Linked DNA regions of Homo sapiens: all the other regions are reported to be linked to region 4. The links are microRNA targets in miRTarBase. Many come from high-throughput screens and were not tested one by one. Region 4 holds a microRNA gene; each other region holds the end of a gene's coding sequence.
What was found. Region 4 holds the annotated microRNA hsa-miR-8066 (CAAUGUGAUCUUUUGGAUGUA, at 1,577-1,597, opposite strand). A microRNA usually pairs through its seed, bases 2 to 8, with sites in the 3' UTR of a target mRNA and lowers its output. Matches are read on the target gene's strand: a 7mer-m8 pairs with bases 2 to 8, a 7mer-A1 pairs with bases 2 to 7 and ends in A, and an 8mer does both.

Region 1: the mRNA of MOCS2 is a reported target of hsa-miR-8066. Seed matches in the 3' UTR shown: 7mer-m8 at 2,501-2,507 and 7mer-A1 at 955-961.
Region 2: miRTarBase lists TXLNG as a target of hsa-miR-8066. Seed matches in the 3' UTR shown: 7mer-A1 at 534-540, 7mer-m8 at 1,759-1,765 and 8mer at 2,090-2,097.
Region 3: the mRNA of IAH1 is a reported target of hsa-miR-8066. Seed matches in the 3' UTR shown: 7mer-m8 at 1,116-1,122.

Annotation. Positions count from the first base shown.
Region 1 is chr5:53,096,041-53,099,286 of GRCh38, forward strand. It overlaps MOCS2 (molybdenum cofactor synthesis 2), which reads right to left. Exons shown (of 7, transcript NM_004531.5): 7 at 1-2,627. The coding sequence ends at 2,562. Among named protein-coding and RNA genes, the nearest start is that of MOCS2, 12 kb to the right of the region's middle.
Region 2 is chrX:16,841,508-16,844,507 of GRCh38, forward strand. TXLNG (taxilin gamma) reads left to right here. Exons shown (of 10, transcript NM_018360.3): 10 at 1-3,000. The coding sequence ends at 259. It overlaps RBBP7 (RB binding protein 7, chromatin remodeling factor), which reads right to left. Exons shown (of 12, transcript NM_002893.4): 12 at 2,834-3,000. Among named protein-coding and RNA genes, the nearest start is that of RBBP7, 27 kb to the right of the region's middle.
Region 3 is chr2:9,488,018-9,491,263 of GRCh38, forward strand. IAH1 (isoamyl acetate hydrolyzing esterase 1 (putative)) reads left to right here. Exons shown (of 6, transcript NM_001039613.3): 6 at 130-1,725. The coding sequence ends at 312. It overlaps ADAM17 (ADAM metallopeptidase domain 17), which reads right to left. Exons shown (of 19, transcript NM_003183.6): 18 at 3,084-3,134; 19 at 469-2,501. The coding sequence ends at 2,160. Among named protein-coding and RNA genes, the nearest start is that of IAH1, 15 kb to the left of the region's middle.
Region 4 is chr4:101,239,229-101,242,474 of GRCh38, forward strand. MIR8066 (microRNA 8066) reads right to left here and starts at 1,644; the gene lies at 1,567-1,644. The region is part of intron 1 of PPP3CA (protein phosphatase 3 catalytic subunit alpha); the gene reads right to left.

The sequences.
Region 1 (3,246 bases), not on the chromosome of region 4:
TGCAAAATTAAATCTAAGTAAGACTCAAGTTGCTAAGAGCAACTTTACTATAACTTTTACTATGGCTCTGGCTCTACTGCCCTCTGCTGGATGATCCACCGAACTACATCACACAAATCATTCTTGAGAGATCTTCACTGTACCAGGTGCTCAGTAACTGTGTAAGATGTCTAAATCACTTATTTCTCAAAAAAGGCTGAAAATATATTGTGACTCTATACATCATATCCAAAGGACAAAAATGTCCACAAAATAAGTCACTCATTGAATATCTGCTGTTACTTTCATTCAAAGATGATAAAAATCAATTTCATTTTACCACCTGTTCAAAAATACTTGAAACATAAATAATTTGAATTTCCTATTTCTTAAGTGAACTTACCTAGCAATCATGCAAAGTCACGGCTTTAAAGTGACCAAGAAACACTGCAGGCAATCTGATTAAAGGCTAATTATTTTTTTTAGATTACTCTTCTAGTTACTTGAAGCTAAGTTACAGAGATGATAGAAAAGCTACATATCAGAGTGACAGTAGCCCCTTAATATCTGAACCACCAATTAACTCTGCCACTCCTAAGTAAGCAAGGGTCAGTAAAGATCCTATCTAAGTCAAGTGCAATGCACTAAAATCTTTCAAGGCCATTCCATCCCAGTTCTGGCATGCCCCAGGTTAACTCCTTAACCTCTCTGTTGGAGACTTTAAAAGCATAACAGTCTCAGTTCCAAACTTAGAATAAAGCCTACTTAATGAAGGCATGATTCTTTTAAAACATAAAGAATGTTCTATGTTCTTTAAAAACATCATTACCCTCAATAAGGAACTTCTAAAGAAATATCTAAGTAGGAAAGTCTTGAAATCCACATATACCTATCAACATTGCATATGACATAACATCCATTTAACAACCTATGTCCAAAATCCTAGAAATGTCCAGTGACCCAGTAACCCCATGATAATGTGCTTTTAGATATAATGCAACAGCCAACACCCACCCCTTCTCTCCAATGGGGACAGGCGGAAGCTCGATGGCAAGCCAGAGTGACACTGAACTGTGAAGGTAAGGCTGAGACCAAACAGGCAACCCGAACCCGGCAGAGGAAGTAGGCGGAGGGTTTGTCTGCCCTTCCAGTATCCTTCTGGCCCAATCTCTCCAGACGGACTAATGAACAAGCATCAACTGATGTAACCAGGTGATTCCTAAAGTCAGTGTGGCTGTCCTATGGGTCCCAGCCACAGATAAGATGCAGAGTGTTCCTCAAGGTATTTTAGGTTGGCAGAAAAAGATCACTGGGTGGGTGCCTGGCACAAAACAGGCATTCAATAAATATTTGTTGAATAAATGGGTTCCTTAGGTAAAAGATGTTTTCACTACATATAACAAATAGGATTACTACGTTTCTTATTTGTCCCAGACATAAGAAAAAAATCCTTCAATCTAAGTGTCTGAAAGTATAGCTTTTGTTCTTAATATGCATAATGCAAATTTTGTGATGATGCCGACTGCCCAAATTTTGCCTGTATTTTATTATTTTATGAGCTATGTGTTTACCTGAAATTTGCTGAGAGTAGACCTTAAATATTCTCACCACACAGAAGAGGGGACTATGTGAGCTGAGGAATATGTTAATTAGTTGGATTATGGTAATCACCTCACAATGTATATGTGTATCAAAAATCACATTGTATACTTTAAATACATACAATTTTTGTCAAGTATACCTAAATAAAGCTGGAAAAAAAAATTTAAGAACTATATGGGACTTATATGTACAAGTCTATCAAAATACTATAAAGCTTAACCAGTTAAAAATTGGGGCATTGTTTACCTAAACATTTCAACACAAACCACCTTGTTGCTAGTTAGCTTTATGACAATTTTGTGCTGATTTGTATATTGATACAAAATTAACAACTAATAAAAAACAACAAAAAGTTTTCTGGTAAGATTATAGATTCTGAAATCCCAGAAATCTCCATAATGAGAACTATTTTAGGCAATTTAAAAAAAAAGAAAATACTCTTTTTAAACTTTTGAAATCATGGGTTTTAGTTTATTATTTTTAATATATTTCTGAAAATGTATAATATCAAGACTGTCTGATAATGCTTTTTTAATACTTTCCAGTTCTGCCAACATTCCTGTCATGCATCCTTAATAACAATGCTCTCCCAGAACCGGGATGGGGGGCGGTGAGGTGGGGTTGGTGGGGGAGTACGTTTCTGAGCTAGTTAAAGTCACTGAGGAGGGCCCATACCTCAATGTGTGTTGAGTTACAATTAGAAATTAGTCATGGAAGGACATGTCTACCACAGATATCTTTCCTCACATTTAAATTATTCCATTTCTTCCTACAGTCCTCCTTCTATCTTTAGTTCCATTTTAAATAACCCTTCATCCTACATACCCATTTATCTTGCTTCCTTTTTCTCCCTTTTGTCCCACTAGTATAAGAGATTGTGCTTCAGTAAACTATCCTGATGTGGAGAGAAAAAAATCAAAATGTGATCAATAATAATAGTTTAACAAAGTTAAGATTGCATGCTCTAAAAACATAAGTGATTAACTGTTGGATGCCCAAAAGCACTCTTTGTTTCCTTTCCAAGTTGATGACTCTTCGTATATTTCCTAAAAAACAAAATCATAACAGGTATTAAAAATAGACCATTCTACTATACGAATATAAAATATATTTGAATAAATCAGACAAATGAATATCACATCTATTTCAATGGCTCCTCTTTTAACAATCATGACGAGAGACATCATGGGCAAGGTTACATAGGGGAAGACAGAAAGTCTTTAGTTTTAAACATTTTTTTTTCTTTCCAAACATACCTACTACTTCAACATTTCTAAATATGCTTTTCCAAAGGCAGATATCTTCATTAGCTGTTGAATTAAGTGGTCACCTCTCAGAAGTTCCTAAACAAGTTTGAGCTGCCCTCTGGTATGAGCTGTTCTTTGACATATGCACTCTACCTACCTGCCACCCTTCCCTATATCACAGATGATCTCAAAGCACAGGCCGAGACTAGAACCAGACTAGAAGTTACATAGTTTGTGGAAAGGAGGGGTAAGGAGAACATATCACTTTCTCTTCTCACTCTCTAGTCACATTCCATTTCTGTAGGGAGAGGAATTCAAATTCAACTGTCCTCTGAACTCCTGCACTTCCTCGGACTCTCTATGGACAAACAAAAGCAAAATACGAAGCCCAACTAGTCCTCAAAGCATGAAAACAAGA
Region 2 (3,000 bases), not on the chromosome of region 4:
AGAAAGGAATGAGCTCAATGAGAAGGTGGAAGTCCTGAAAGAGCAGGTATCCATCAAAGCGGCCATCAAAGCGGCGAACAGGGATTTAGCAACACCTGTGATGCAGCCCTGTACTGCCCTGGATTCTCACAAGGAGCTGAACACTTCCTCGAAAAGAGCCCTGGGAGCGCACCTGGAGGCTGAGCCCAAGAGTCAGAGAAGCGCTGTGCAAAAGCCCCCGTCCACAGGCTCTGCTCCGGCCATCGAGTCGGTTGACTAAGATGAGGTGTGATCACTGTATTGAGAGATATATTTTGTGTATAACTTTCTCTGTTAGTAGTTAACTATTGGTTTTGTGGTGAAAATTTTCTTACTTTTTCTACCATATCTGTATTTTCTTAGAACTACTGGACTTATGTGGTACAGGAGGCTGCTTAGCAGTTTTGAATAGTTTAATCTATAAATTTTCCTCAGCTGTGTTGCACATCAGCCTCGTTCTCCCTCCACTGGAATGCATGTGTTCATTGCCTTGTCCTTTCTCTCCCTGCTCCTTGCACATTATCATCCTAATGAAAATTTCACTGACAGGGCCGACCATTACAAGGGAACTTTGTTCTGACGATGGTTCCTTGATGTGAAAACAATATTAATTTAAACGTCTTAGCCCCCCCCCCCATAATATTATTCAGAAAAACAAAATACCAAGGCGATTAGTTTTGTCTAATAACCCATTTAAATGCCAAGTAAAAATAAAACTCCTAGTGTTGGGTCAGAAGCATATTTGATTGAAATTAGCTTTTTGAAAACATTTATATCTCGGGACAAATTGAGATGGCCACATGCCTAGAATCCTAAGTTTCGGCAGAATATGTATATAAAGATGTCACTTGTGGACAAAATAGTACATAGAGGCAAATCACTAGACAAATAAGCTTAGTGTTTACGTGACTGAACAGTCATCCTGCTTTGGTTTCAGGTGTGGGATTTGGACCATGAGGGGCTCCCGTAGAGGATGGCGGTTTGTGTTTGATTCTGATTTGGGATTTCAGTACATATTCTCCACTTCCCATAGAAGGCCACTTATTCTTTGAAAACTGGTGTTCATGTTTGCCGTTCAATGAAGTCCCTTGTCAAAGACAAGGACGGTCAATTCACGTGTCACTTTCACTAGGCAGAAGTTTCTCCAATACCTTCTGGCTACTTGAAAGTTACTACAAAAATTCCACCAGCAAAGTACTCCAGGTTTTTCAAAAGGGAATTTTCATTATGGATCAGTACCAACCGAAATTGATTTTCATTTCCAAAACAAACACTGGCACCAACATTTTTACTTTGGGAAGACTTGGCAGAGTGTTAGTCATGATCTGTTACTTACGTGTTCAGTCTGTTTTCTCACCCCCTTCTTAGTTACCATCTCTTTTTTAAGAAGAAAAAAGAAAAGCCACAGTATTATCAAGGTCTCTACACTTGGACTGGGGGAAAATTTGAAATTAAGCACATAACTTTTGAATTAGTTCTTTGTTTCAATGTTGAATGTGGCGCAGTTATGCAGATGATTAATCAGGCTGCACTGATGGAAGTTTTGACTTTGTCCCTGGTATAATTTGCATTGAAATGCTTTATGAAATAAAAGGTTCTACTAGAACTGATGTTAGCACATTCCACTGAGCAAAACTATCAGACTGACACTTGTTAAATTGCTTACTGGACTGAATAAACTCTGTTTTGTCCAGTTAAAAGGGTTTTCTCTTTGTTACAAGTGTTATTTGTAAAGTCCTGTCACATTCATGGTCGAAACTGGGTTGAAAGAATTGAAAATTGTCCAACAGATAGATAGATAGGAAACCGCCTGGAGTGGAGGAGGGTTGTATCTAAGCCTCCACTATCAGTCATGTTAATTCAAGGGGCCACAGTGGAGGAAAATAAATCCACAAAGTAGATTATCTAATTACCATCAAAATGAGTCAGAAGCAAAAAACACCACCCTCCAACAGCCTCTTAGGAGTACACCCTGTTCTGCTACTAAAATACTAGACTCATTTCCCTGGTGGTGGGGGGGAATGCAGGTATAGATCAGAAATATAATCCACCTTAAAATTAGTACTAATGATCACATTATTTCACAAGAACTCTGCTGGATGTACAGCTCTTAACATTTTATTAAGCCATTTGTGTAGCCCACCACGTTTCTTTGTGGTGCTTGTCCTGTGTGGAAGATTGTAAATCTTGGGCCTGTTGCATACTTCCAAGGGCTTTAAAGCAATGTGATTAACAGTACTTGGCCTGCTGCTTTTGGCTTACTTTGTATTTTTAGCTAGATGCTATTATAGTGTTGAAAGGATATGGATTCTGTCTGGGATGCATTTGTTGTCCTTTCAGAACCCTTCCTCCCATTACCCTGTGAATAAAAACAAATGGGACCCCCTGAGAAGGACATCTTCCTACAGTGATCACCTCACCAGCCCAGTGTTGTGGCTTTGTAGCGCACCCCGTATCTACCATATTCTAGAACACTGTAATGCTACTAGGCTGGCCCAGAAAAGGTTTAAATGTTGAATTCACTTAAATTGCAATTGTTGCACCATCATGGAATCGTGATGTGTATTATTTATATTGGCGGTGGACTCCAAGGTGTAGAGAAAACTTGGGTCTTGGGTAATATGGACCATTTCATCCTCAGACTTGTTAGGAGTACATTTCTTGGTCTTGAGACCAGTATTTTTCAGTTATGTATGCAACTGCCTTTATTACACCTGGTTATCACAATTCAATTCTCAGGTGTTGCAGAAAAATCTACCTCTTTCAGACTGTAGATGGAAATAACTGTGAAAAAAATGATGCAGATATCTTCTAGTTTGTGCTAAACACACTGCTTTATTTTTACAGCCCACGTCTTTCATGAGGATACGAATTGTTAAGAGGCAGTCTCGTTTTGCTTTTCAAAGACATTTTGTAGAGATTTTTCACTAATGTGAATCTGATTTTATCTACTTGATTCTGTATAGATTAAGTAAATATGTA
Region 3 (3,246 bases), not on the chromosome of region 4:
TTTTTTGTAGAGACAGGGTCTCAAACTCCTGTCTTCCAGTAATCCTCGGCCCCAAAGTGTTGGAATGACAGGGGTGAGCTACCACACGTGGCCAGTTACCCACCTTTAACCGATTTCTCTCCCTTCTAGGACTTCTCATCTTATTTATCAGATGGACTACATTTGTCTCCAAAGGGGAATGAATTTTTGTTCTCGCATCTCTGGCCTTTGATAGAGAAAAAGGTCTCTTCTCTACCTTTGCTGCTTCCTTACTGGCGGGATGTAGCAGAAGCAAAACCTGAATTAAGTCTGCTGGGAGATGGAGACCATTAGCCAATCACAGGAGACCCAAATCTGCTTGTTATCTACAGAACTCAAAGTTGTCAATACGTAGAGGTACGCTTTTTTCCTCAGGCTTAAACCTTTGCCACTGATATTAATAATAAAAGTATTAGATGATTTTTCAGGGAAGTTTTATACTTAGGTCCATTGTGTTTCGACAGTATTTATTAATGCAGATATCAGTGCTACAGCTATAAAATATACCCTGAGCAGCTTGTTAATTCTATAAATGACAAAGACTATGTTTTTAAAAAGTCACAATTTTATAAAAATGGTTTTTCTTACATTCTTTTGAGAACTGTTTCACTCATACATACACCCACACACCCCACTCAACCTTGTATCAAATTCCAAAAGTGTAACTAAAGTATAAGAATATCATGACTAGTTAAAAGATAGCAAATACCATAAGGTACAAGTTCAAGTATTAGTATAACAAGTATCTGAGTAACAAATGTCCTTGGAAATGGGGGGTAGGAGGAGATATGATTAGTCACAGGTTTGGTTAACTGCCCTCAAAATTTACAAGTTAAAATGTTTTGGCTGGTGAGCACATTTCAGTTCTTAGGGGAAAAAAAGCTTTTAATGGCAATTTATAGAAATCAGAATCCAGGCTAATGATTTTTATCCTTCACACAGTAAATGCAGCCCATCCAGAATCCTGGAGCAATAAAGTAAGAAGTAATTCAAATATCTGCTTGTGGGTCAATAAAAAGGGTTTCTGAAGTATCAAGTCTTGTGGGGACAGCCCCCAACCCTAAGGGCAGGTAGTATTCTATCTCCTGGCTGGCTCATCACATTCAAAACAACCTGTTTTTTTTGTTGTTGTTGTTGTTAAGAAATATCTCACCCTCTTATTCAATAGTGTTTGAAAACAGGCAATCTTTGTATTTTAAATATTCTAGGTTTGTAGATAGTGAATTTTTTTTTTTTTTTTTTTTTTTTGAGGCAGAGTCTCACTCTGTCACCCAGGCTGGAGTGTAGTGGCGCAACCTCAGCCTCTCCAAGTGCTGGGATTACAGGCATGAGCCACCACTCCCAGCCAATAGTGAATTTTCTAAGAGCATGTATCCCTATCAGTAACAGGGATACATGAAGATACTTATAAAATACAGAAAAACTGCCCAGCAAATCAGGGCCCTAAACAGTTGGTAGATTCCATAAATTCAACTGGCTACCATGTATAGCCCTCACTGTAAGGTAGGTGGTTAGGTTTCTAGAGAGCATTAGTCTTAGAATTATGAAGAGCCATATTAACCCAAATGATTTCTAAATTTAGATATATATTTTCCCTGCTACATAAAAACTCTGGGTAATAACTAGAAATAGACCCACAATTTAGAGACAATGTATACTAGATTTATCTCCTTTGTTTTTAGTTGAAGGCAAAAAAAAAAAAAAAAAAAAAAAACTATTCCAGTTGTCATCACAAATAAATGCCAAATGCCTCATATTCAGCGGTTCATTACAGTGTATAAAAAAAAACTGATCATTTCCCTAGTCAGTGCTGTTATCAATATAAAAGATTAATTTACAAAAACGTAAATATTCATAACCCAATCCAGCTGTATTTTCTGCTTTTGCACCACAGGTCAAAAGATATTTTAAAAACTAAAACCTGAAAGCCTCAAAATAAGCTAGATTCACCTTCACCTTACCTTTTCAAAAGGAGAAGGGCCAAACCACACAAGAACTGTTTACCTGCAGGAAGTTCAAACACATGACCAGCATCTGCTAAGTCACTTCCCAGTCTTCACAAAATACAAGCTGTGATTGATTTGTAGGTCAAATCTATAAAAATATTTTGCACACTTAAGTCAGAAGAGCTGAGAACTAAATTAGCACTCTGTTTCTTTGCTGTCAACACGATTCTGACGCTGCAGTTTAAAGGAGGCAGCCTTTTCACTTCTGGTGACCGGATGGTCCGTGAGATCCTCAAATGACTTGGCAGCTGTGCTGCTATTTGGGAAGGGGTCCTTCTCAAACCCATCCTCGTCCATATGTGAGTCTGTGCTGGGGTCTTCCTGGATGGTGTCCATTCTCTGGTGGTCCAGTTTTGGAGCTGCTGGCGCCGAAGGGATCACAGGGGCAGGCTGCAGGCGGCCTGGAGTCTGGGGCGCAGGAAAGGGTTTGATAATGCGAACCGATGCAGAATCCATGCTGCTCAGCATTTCGACGTTCTGCAAAGACATGGGTTCAATTGATTGATAGGAATAAAAGATGAATCGGAGGTCCTCACAGCTCCACCCTTACCCATCAAACAGCCTCTTATTCTGTTGGCACTGTGATGCTAAGAAAAAAGTGCTAGGTGAGGCTCACTCAACCTAAGTGACTAAAAAATACTAGGTTGGTGCAAAAGTAATTAATGCCATTACTTTTAATGGCAAAAACAGTAATTACTAGCTTTCAAGCATCCTGAAAACTTACTTACCATTTGAAGACCCAAAAGAGGATTCAAACCTCTCAAGGTAAGATCCCAAGAGAGAAATTGAACTCAAAATATTAACTAAGTGTTGAATGGCTAAATCACTCCTTATGGCTTGGGAAGGGGACAGCACAGCTCTTTAAATGTCCATCCATGCAACTAATCGAAGTTCACCATCACTGTTGTCAGAAGGGTAAACATTCCAACCTAGACCCTTCCTGCTGCAACATGACCTTCCATCAGCCAGTGAAAGCTCTTGCTGGGTCAGGTGAAGGTCTTTGCCTAACAGGGCCTCAGACCAGGCGAAGATTATGTTTCTTTCATATGGTATACTTACACTGGGGTGAAACAGAGACAGAGATTCATACTGTTTATCCAATTTCTTATCCTAGAAAGAAACAGCAAGAAGGTCATTCCCTACAAATACAATTCAGTTAGTGAGTACTATTTCATCACAGGCTATTCCTAACACTAACTGAAGAACTTAGAACCTGAGTTGT
Region 4 (3,246 bases):
TCTTAAAAAGGCACAGTCTCACTAAATTCTGCTTTTCAACAAAATTTAAACATTTGGTTTAATCTTATTCCAAAAGCACTAAAACAGTTTGATGTCACTGTTGATTACTCCCTTTTGCTTTCTCAGTAAAGTTATCTCAAAATCGAATTGTCTAATTGAAAGCAAACAAACATGCCAACAAACAAGAAACTGAATTTTGAAATTCTGTCTACCAACAGAAGAAAGAGAATTCCAGAAGAAAACAATTCCACTTAAGTATAGGACAAGACCTAAGGACAATTAGGAAATTTAGTTATCACAATTTGGAAGCAAGAAGAATCCACACACACCCACACAAAAGCAAGTAGATGGTAAATATGAAAATAGCTAAATACAAACTCACAAGTAGACAGTAAAAATGCTAAAAATGGTCATCATTTTAATGGTTTACCTCTGCTTTCCCAACTGTTCTCCAGTCACACCCAAGATAAAATATGAAGGCATATTAAGACTGCCATGGGCCTTGTATACAAAATTGATATTCAGTAATAAAAGTTGAGAGCTCAGCACTGGCTAAAACTGCCTCATCAAAGTCATTACTCCTTTAGGTTCTCAATTACATCAGGGATTCCATAGGCATGAAAAGGCATCTCACTCTTTAGATACAACAACAGTTAAAATGTAGTGCACCAAGGGTACAGTAAAACACATTTTACTGTACACTGACATCAGGCAGATCTTAAGCAAATATAATCTAGCATCATTTGATTAAGGGGGTTTAAAATAAAAAGAGCCTACAGTGACTAGTTTTTAATTTTTTTGGTTTTTTTTTGGGGGGAGCGGGGGGGAGGTGAGGTAGATAGTTACTGGAACACAAGATCAACTGGTTTGTACATAATTTTATTGCTATAGTTCTGCACATACTTAGGTTCAGAAATACAGCAGATGAACGCATTTCTAAAAGTGAGAGTACACACAGGAACAAAACAACAGTTAAGATTGTGAGTTCTCTGAGGATCTTTTCGCCCTTTAAAATTTATATATGCAATAGAGTTCCTCCAGAGGACATCATTACACAAAACCACTCCAGTAGCAACTACTGGGAAGTACCAAATTACATAAAATTAATGGAGGCTCTTTGCAATGAATAAATTTACAACTACATGACGAGTGCCTTTCACTTTTTATTCCACTGAGTGAGCTGCTAGAGTAATCAATTCATTCAGGTATATTAGAGAAACCCATTACATGTCTGATGGGCAGTTTTGTTCCCCCCACCCTTTATTAAGATTTCTGTTTGTGTTTAAAGAAAAATAACCAGGTTGGTCTTGGAATCTACAATGTGGGAGGCTGGGAAATCAGATACGCAAACAGGAAAAAATAAAAAGAGAAAGCAGGATTTGGGTAAGACAGACACAAAAGAATAAAAAGACACATCAGAATTTAAATGTTTTCTCAATAAATCAAATACTTTCAATTTTAAAATACACAAAATTTGCTAATATTCAGAAAATCTTTCTAAAAATTTAAAAAAATAATAAGGATGGAATTACTGTGATCCAACCTTAGAAGACTCCAAGTCAACACAGATTTGCCCTACATCCAAAAGATCACATTGTAACATGCAGAGGCAACAATATGTTCCACAGGAATGTAAGCAAGATGATTTTCTTCTTCTTCTTTTCTTTTTCTATTTTTCTTTTTTATTTTTGAGACAGTCTTGCTCTGTCATCCAGGCTGCAACCTTGACCTCCCAGGCTTAAGCAATCCTCCCACCTCAGCCTCCTAAGTGGCTAGGAACAGGTGCGCACTACCACAGCTGGCTAATTTTTAATTTTTTGTAGAGACAGCGTCTCCCTATGTTGCCCAGGAAGGTCTCAAACTCCTGGACTCAAGCAATCCTCCTGCTTCAGCCTCCTAAAGTTCTGGGATTACAAGCATAAGCCAACATGCCTGGCCAAGATACATAAGAGGAGATGGTATGGTACAGTGAAAAGAGAAGTGACCTAGGCTTTCATTCTTGCAATGAGGTAAACCTTTGCACTCCTATGGAAAGGTGCTTCATCTATAAACCAGCAATATCATTTTTCCTAGCTGCTTCATAGTTTTGACAGGAAAGCCACCTAAGATAATATGTGGAAGGCCTTTGTAAATGTTAGAGCACTATAAAGATCAAAGATAACACAAATTACAGGTGATATTAATGTTGCTAACTCTAACGAAAAAAGAAAGCGCTCAACAAATATTTGTTGAATAAAAGAAAGAATATTTTAAAATAATTTCTAAACCTGAAATCAAATTATTCCAATCATTTTATTTTATATTTATATTAATGTCATATTGTAGAATATTTAGTTGTCTATAACAATAGCCAATATTAATCCAATGCTTACTATTTTCCAGGTCCTGTTTTAAAGACTAGAAATATTAACCTGACAATACCTTCCTGAGATAGAATGTATTATTAGAATCTATTTCACCTGTAAATCTTTATTTGCTTTATTTTTTTACTTCATTTAAATTACTTAAACTAAAATACAGGGCTAGATAATATACCAAAAATCACACAGTCTCAACTCAAAGCTAGAAAATCTGATTCCAGTGACCATGCTTTTAAACTAAAAATGAATTCATTAATACATGTACACTTAGTCAAATTGCTAAGTGTATCTGTACAAATGTTACAGTACATGACCAAAATAGTATTTTCAGGTAAAATCAATTCAGGATTGTTGTTAACTGTACTGTGCTACACAGTCATAATTCTTTTAATATTCTGGAACTATAAGATATCAGTTTTATGGCATCTTATCAATTACATAACCTGTTTCACTCTTCTGCCTTCAAAATACTTCCTTCTCTGTTCCCCAAATATACTTGTAATTGAGCATCTTGTTTTGTGTAGATATAAAAATGCTTAAAAATGAAATTCTTAAGACTCATAGTAGAAACACCTAGATTACATGAATGTTTACAGACAGCATTAGCTCATTAATGGTTTATTTACTAATGACTGCAATAAGCATCATATTAGACACTGAATGGGGATAGATAAGCAATTAAAGACATGACCTTAATCAGTTACTTTTTTTAATCAGTTATTTTTAAAATCTAATTAAGACACAAAACATACTTATGTGAGATGACCTGAAAACTACATTTTAAAAAATCACTTATTTCCAATTGAAAACTGGTAAGCTATTAGTCAAATACACAAGTCCTAAGGAGAAACAGGAAGGGTCAAACTCAGGGGAGACAAGTGCCAGA